Homo sapiens: one gene and its partner. The protein of the gene in region 2 purifies or fractionates together with the protein of the main gene of each other region. This does not show direct contact. Each region holds a gene or a part of one and is shown on either strand. Other genes may lie near its edges.

Region 1 (3,500 bases), on a different chromosome or scaffold from region 2:
TTATAAAGTGTAAGTGGAGACGCTAAATTGTGAGTACAAAGTTTCTTTTTCACAACAGTGATAAGAAAATATCTTTAAAAAATATAAGACAATATAAACATGTCATCATTAGTTTAGCTACTATTAAAATGTAACATCTAGAAAGTACTGATCTCCACCTTCAGACTTCTGTATAAGTATATTTTTTCACTGATCTGTTCATTAGAGTTCTTCCAGCCAAGACTCTGGGCTCTTAAAACATGTATCTGAAAACTAAAAACAAGTTAATTTTTTTAAAAGCTTCTCTATTTCTAGTGATTCAATAGGTAGAAAAATAGCTTCTAGAATTAACTGCAATGCTTTCTAAGGAAATTTTATAAATCCTCAAGGTCGGTTTACACATATTTTTCCAGATTCAGAGCACTAACTATCTTGTAAGATGTAAGAAAAGGTCCATTTGGAAGTATGAGTAATAAATGTCTGGGATAATTCTGGTTTATTTCGTATTATCCTTGTTAGAATAAGTTATATGGTCAACCTGTTCAGAACACTTTTTCTAGTGTTAGTGTGTACTTTTGGATTTTTGGTTCTTGTAGGGTATAGAAATATTTTCCTTTGTCTTGTATTCTGTTGTTTTGAATGAATAAAACACAATGTTTCACGATCACTACTTTCATTTGCCATGGAGAAATAGCAGGGAAAAATTTCTACAGAATAAAATTAACTGATGAATTACATGCAGAAAAAATTCAAATCAATGATACATTGTAATTTTTATCTCAATGCAATGTTCTTTGTATTTTATTTTATTATTATTTTTTTGAGACGGAGTTTCACTTTTGTTGCCCGGGCTGGAGTGCAATGGCACAATCTCGGCTCACCACAACCTCTGCCTCCCGGATTCAAGTGATTCTCCTGCCTCAGCCTCCTGAATAGCTGGGATTACAGGCATATGCCAACATGCCTGGCTAATTTTGTATTTTTAGTGGAGACGGGGTTTCTCCACGTTGGTCAGACTTGTCTTGAACTCTGGACCTCAGGTGATCCACCTGCCTCAGCCTCCTAAATTGCTGGGATTACAGGCATGAGCGACCACTCCTGGCCTTGTTCTTTGTATTTTATAAGTGCATGTAGTGCAAAGGGTCAAAGGGCTTTACAGGTTTTTTGTTTGTTTGTTTTTGTTTTTCCCGAAACATAGTAGTCCCTTGCCCTTCCTCATTTTTGTTACCTTGAGACAACAAATTTTACTACTTCTAACTCATTATTTTATTTATGTTCACTTTTCTGAATAGCATGCTTATGACACTAATACTTTTTTTTTCAATTTTAGACATTCATTATTCATTTAGATGTCTTTCTCTCCCCAAACTCACCACATAAAATACTCTTCTCATGTCTCTTTCAGAAATATTTGTATTAAAATATGATTATATCAATATTTGGCATTTATTTCTTATGACCTTGCCAGTACTCTTAGTTAAACTACATGGTAAAAATGATTTTGCTTTCCCTCCTACATAACTTTTTTTCCACCTAGAGCTAATAATTGTCATTCTGGGGACTGACTTTTTCTGTATTTACCATAAATTGACCTGAAACTCCCCTGTGATGCAGCAGGAATTCTACCAACGTCAACTTCCTTAGAAAGACTCCATTAGAAGCTTGACTTGGGGCTAGAAGGAGAGGCACACAACTGCCATCCTGGTGTCTCCCTTCATCCAGAAAAAGGGGGAGGAATACATGAAACCTAGAATCCACTCTAAAACATTTTCCAGAACAAAAGGACATGTGTTTCCGTGTTGTAAATGTTTAACGAGTGCCCATAACAAGGAATAATAAGTCTATTATGTTTGCTTTTGTGTCTGTAAAAGTTGGGGGTATTGGTTGTAAGCACGAAAACAGATACTGACTGTTGAAGAAAAAAAAAAATACGAGGTCAGGAGTTTGAGACCAACTTGGCCAATATGGTGAAACCCTGTCTTAGTAAAAATAGAAAAATTAGCCAGGCCTGGTGGCACGCACCTGTAGTCCCAGCTACTTGGGAGGCTGAGGCAGAAGAATCGCTTGAACCCGGGAGGCAGAGGTTGCAGTGAGCCAAGATCGCACCACTGCACTCCACCCTGGGCAACAGAGCGAGACTCCGTCTCAAAAAAAAAAAAAAAAAAAAAAAAAAAAAGTTAAGTATTTGAACATAGGGGTGGCTCATAGAATTCCCAGGACACCCGATGGAGTAGGCTTGCAAAACACAACATGTGGCAACTCCAGTGGGAAACGAGGCAGGAAACACTCGTTTCCTGCAGAAAGCAACAATTTGGGCTTCGATACCCTCCCTAGAACACAGGGCAGTGAATCTGAGCAGCATCAGTACCCCACGTTCGGATGAGTCCTGAGCCCCTATTTTTATTCACTGACTTATTCCAAAATCAGTGTCTCTTAAATATATCTGGAAGGCAGCAGCTTGTATCTCCCCCTTCAGCTTCCATAGTGGCAGTCAGGGTACAACTTACTTTCCAAACAGAACACACTGCGACATTCCCTCCAGGCTCGTTGAAGAACTTCAACTGACAAATGTCCCTCCTCGACCAGATGATAGTTTTCTTAAAGGCAGGGTTTAATATACCCTTTTATAAATGTTTCAAGGCCCTGTGTAATACCTGAGTTTATTCCAGATGTAACTAAATATATCCAAGATTGTTTTAAAATAAATTGCTGAAAAAACAAATAAATACAGTTAGTATCTATATCAATATTCTCAGTTGGCAGTTTTGCAATAATGGCCGATAGTTCATTTTTAGTAACACTATTGACATTGCATTTGGATATTAGGGTTTACTAATCATCCGCATGTATACATTGCATATTTTTCTAGACTTTAACTTTATTCAAATCTATTGATTTTTAAACCTGCAACTTATGTCTAGACACAGGTATACCTTTACAAGAACTACCATTTTTTTTGGTAACATACTACCTCCAAAATTTCAAGTAAGAAGTTGATTTTTGTCCATTTTTAAATGGAAAACTTGTAATCAAAATGCCACAAAATTATACTGTGTATCATTTGACCTATAGAAACCAATATTATTACAGGAAGAAAGCAGAGCCAATCTTCTACCTGTGGTCAAATAAGTGGAGGCCCTTTCTAGACTAAGTTCTCATGAGTTTAAAATACCAAGCATAAGTTCTCCAAATTCCTGAAAAGGAAGCCTTGTGTTGTATTGCCCAGCCATATTTGTAAGACATAAAAATAAAACTTGAGAAGAAGCTATGATAACTTACTTTCTTCATTCTTCAAAATTTACATAATCTCAACTGATTTTATGTTTTTATGAAAATGCATTCTTAAGATATATCCTTATTCAATCATGTATTCATTACATCCTTTATGCCAGGTATCCAAAAGTACTTACAGTGACTAAGACCATTATTCTTTGATCAGCTGCCTGAGTAAGACTTTGAGCTCTCCAATATACTCTCAGTGATACTAAGTTTTCTGAGTAACAGCTTTGGATGTGGCTTCA
Region 2 (4,154 bases):
TTTCCTCTGCTGACCATATACTGCCACTGTTAAGCGTTAGGAGCGTGTATACAGAGGCCCAAGCAGGGGCTCTTATTGCTGGCATGCATCAGCAGAATCACCCTGTGGCAGGGCAGGGAAGATGGTGATTCTATAGACCTAGGGTAGCCCCTGGCACCTTTTAAAGCTCCCTAGCTGTCCTGATGCATTCCACAGGAAAAAAACGACTGGACTGTGAAGGTAATAGACATGGATGGTAGGGGAAAATATAGGAAAGCGTGGGGGAACTTGGTGCTTAAAAAACTCGTCTTATCCCCAAGGTCACCCCTCTTTCTTTCTGAGTGCTTTTTCTTATCTTTGACCCTGACAAACATAACATTGTTCGAGGCTTTCTGCTTTATGAACTCTTAATTCCTTTTTCATGCTTTTCACTTTAGTGAATTGACTAAATGATCAGAATCATAATTCCTCTTTTGAAAATAAACTATTTGAAAGTGACTTGGGCTGTTGAGTGTGAGATTCGACAATGCTCTATGATATCTACCATGTCCTGAGACTAGATTGTGTATTCCCTGATGCCCTGAACAATTATCTGAAAGCGTTGTTTGGCTGGGATCATTGATGGTTTTTCTAATGCCTAGCAAATTAGGATTTGGAGTGTTAATAAGAAGTTTGTTCTGAAATGAAATCTCACAAATAGCTTAGTGTTTTGCTTTAAACCCTTTTGAATATGCATGAAAACAACAGGGAGTATTCTATAGTGTTCTCTCAAGACTCTAGATAACACTGCTATTGTGTAGTTCCCTGATTCCCGCAGCCCGAGGCATGCTTGTACTTTTAAAATCCTACTTTGGCCTAGAGCGGTGGCTCACACCTGTAATCCCAACACTTTGGGAGGCCGAGGCAGGTGGATCACCTGAGGTCAGGAGTTGAAGACCAGCCTGGGCAACTTGGTGAAACCCCATCTCTACTAAAAATACAAAAAAAATAGCTGGGCATGGCCGGGTGCGGTGGCTCACGCCTGTAATCCCAGCACTTTGGGAGGCTGAGGTGGGCGGATCACAAGGTCAGGAGATTGAGACCATCCTGGCTAACATGGTGAAACCCCGTCTCCACTAAAAATACAAAAAATTAGCCGGGCCTGGTGGCAGGTGCCTGTAGTCCCAGCTACTGGGGAGGCTGAGGCGGGAGAATGGCATGAACCTGGGAGGCGGAGCTTGCATTGAGCCGAGATCGCGCCACTGCACTCCAGCCTGGGTGACAAGAGCAAGACTCTGTCTCAAAAAAAAAAAAAAAAAAAATTAGCCGAGTGTGCTGGTATGCGCCTGTAATCCCAGCTACGTGGGAGGCTGAGGCAGGAGAATCGCCTTGAACCTGGGAGGTGGAGCTTGCAGTGACCCGAGATTGTGCCACTGCACTCCAGCCTGGGCGACAAAGTGAAACTCAGTCTCGAGAAAAAAAAAAAAAAATCGCACCTTATCCTCTGTCATAACATTGATCCCACTGCACTGTAACTGCTGATCTCCTCTAGCTCTCCTCATTTCTCTCTGGAATCTAATCTCACTGAGGTCAGGGACTTTGTATCTCCAGCATCTAGCTCAGGAGAAACTGAATAATCAATGATGAGTGAATGAGTCCCAAAATTCTGGAAGCAAATATCATTGTCCCTTGAAGAAGGACCTCACTTAGAGAGGAGAGAGAGAGGAGGGGAAACAGAGTTACATTGGTCAGAGAGGTAGGAAAAGCACTAAAATAGTATTCTATCATGAAAATCCAGGAAAAAGAGGAGAAATGTTTGAGGAATTAGCAAATGCTACCTAGAGGTAAACGAGAATGAGAATTTAAAAAATGTTTTGGGATTTTTTCCCAGTCATTAGTGGCTATAGATAGAATCAAGATCTCAAGGGATTAAGGGGAGAACACAAGATAAGGAAATGAGGGTGGAAGGTTAAAAAAACATGCAGAGAAGTGAGGCTACAAAAAGCAGATTTGGAAGTGGTTGAGCAGAATGACAGAAGCAAACGCAGCATCCTCATGAGGGAGGAGAACAGTGTTTGAGGGCAGAAATGGGAGGTTCTTTTAGTGTCCACCTCCACGTCCTCCGGCGTCACCCCTGCCAGTGATGGAGGGGCTGAGCTCTGAGCATCTCGCTGGTCTGTCTGAGGCTGAGTCAGCAGTCGGTTTATTGAAAAGCCATGTGTGCTAAGCCCTGTACTAACCCATTTTCTTTGAATGATGTTGTTTCTTTTAACTTGCATCTTCCTTTTCCTGCAGGAAACATGGTAGAATGGTGCTTACCTCAAGATATTGACCTTGAAGGTGTTGAGTTCAAGTCTATGGCCAGTGGGTCCCATAAAATCCAATCTGATTTCATGTAAGTACTTCTGAACTGGAGTCATCTTCGTACCATTCCCCCCACCTCCACACTTTCCCCAAAGCTGAAGGGCTCTTATTAGGAGGTCTTCGTGTGCTGTGTGTAAATGCCTTGAAAATACATGGATAGTTTTGTGTTTACATCATTTTTCTAGTGAGATGTCTAGCTTTCATCAGATTCTCAATGGGCTTCATGACCTGCAAATCTTAAGAATCCCTGCCTGTAGAGGTTCTCTCACTTTCTCAGAAATTACATGGACCTCACTTGAGGTTTGGTTTTAATGAAAGTGCACAGTTTCAGCCCCGTGTGAGTTAACTGAGGATATCTATGTGTTCAACCTTGAAATTTCAGCTTTAAGTAAGGCCATTTTTTAGTCCTGTGTAGTGGGGCATTCAGAGAGTTTTGCGAGAAGGAACAATGGAAAGAGCTTAAGGGTAATGAAGTGGCTTTAATCTCCTCATGGGGCTTAATTCATGATTGATACAAGTGTGAGAAGAGGAGGAAATAAAATGGCAGCTCAGTGAAAAATATCAGAGCCTCAGGAAGTAAGGGAAGAATCACTGTGGTTTATGCTACGAAAGAGAGTCCAAGTTCCAGAGGAGCCTGAAGAGGAATGTTGGTTCTGCTTCACCCATCCAAGTCATTAGTCGTGGTGCAGGAGAGAAGAGATGTGTCCATGATTGTGGGCAGCTGAGCGGCAGGCTTGCCACGGACTAAGTCCCAGCTCCAGCCAAGTGACCCTTGGCAAGTTATGTAATCTCTTCAAGCTCATCAGTGAGGTCATGTGGCTTGGCCCGCTTGTTTTCTTGAGGCTGAGCTTTGTCATTGACAGCCCCGAACACAGTTCATTTGTTTTGTTTAGGATTGCATCTCAAAATTCCTCTCTGATCTTGAGCCACACTACGTATTTGGTCTCTTCTAGCTATTTCCGAAAGGGGCCCTTCTTCGGCCTGGCCTGCTTTGCCAACATGCCCGTGGAGAGCGAGCTGGAACGTGGCGCGCGGATGAAGTCTGTGGGCATCCTCTCTCCCTCCTACACACTGCTTTACCGCTACATGCACTTCTTGGAGAACCAGGTTCGGTACGTGGCTTCCGTACATGTGCAGGGAGGCAGCAGGATCCACCAGCTGGTGCATATGGCACGAGCCCTCGGAGACAGCATTTGCGTGCCAGAGCAGCAGATGTCTTTCCAAGAACATCCATGGCGATGTTTCACGCCTCGGGTGGTGTCCTTTCGTTTCAGCCAACGTCCTGCATGATGAGTCTTCACTCTATAATGAAAGCTGGGGTATATTCTGCCTTCAGTTTGGATTTAATACTACCATCACTTTTTAAAATTAAGTCATTTTTTGACAGGTACATGATCTTTGTTTATGCAAAGCCGCAATAGTTACCTCCTTGCCCCAAGTAGGCAAAGAAATCCTAAACTTTCTTAAAGCCTACTTCTTTTATTATTGGGATTCTTACTATGATTGGGATAATAGAAAGAGAACTTAAAAATATATATATATATATATATATATATATATTTTTTTTTTTTTTTTTTGGTAGAGACAGGCTCTTACTATATTGCCCAGGCTGGTCCTGAACTCCTGCAGTCAAGTGATCCTCCTGCCTCAGCCTGCCAAAGAGCTGAGATTATAGGCATGAGCCAAGGTGCCTGGCATAGGAAGAGAATTTTTAACAGAAGCAGCAAAACGATTAGTTACTTTACATTTTTTTCATCATGCAGGTAACCTAATTACATTTCAGATTTTGAGGGGAAAATTTATCCCTAATCCCTGAAGCACTGACAAAATGT

What was found. Proteins that work in one complex are often made in the same cells at the same time.
Region 1: the proteins of DENND11 (region 2) and CD226 purify together in Homo sapiens (co-immunoprecipitation; one large-scale study listed by IntAct). This does not show direct contact.

Annotation. Positions count from the first base shown.
Region 1 is NC_000018.10:69,857,374-69,860,873, reverse strand, and holds part of CD226 (CD226 antigen isoform a precursor), read left to right. Parts: 3' UTR 1-3,500.
Region 2 is NC_000007.14:141,684,758-141,688,911, reverse strand, and holds part of DENND11 (DENN domain-containing protein 11), read left to right. Parts: intron 1-2,253; coding exon 2,254-2,353; intron 2,354-3,275; coding exon 3,276-3,434; intron 3,435-4,154.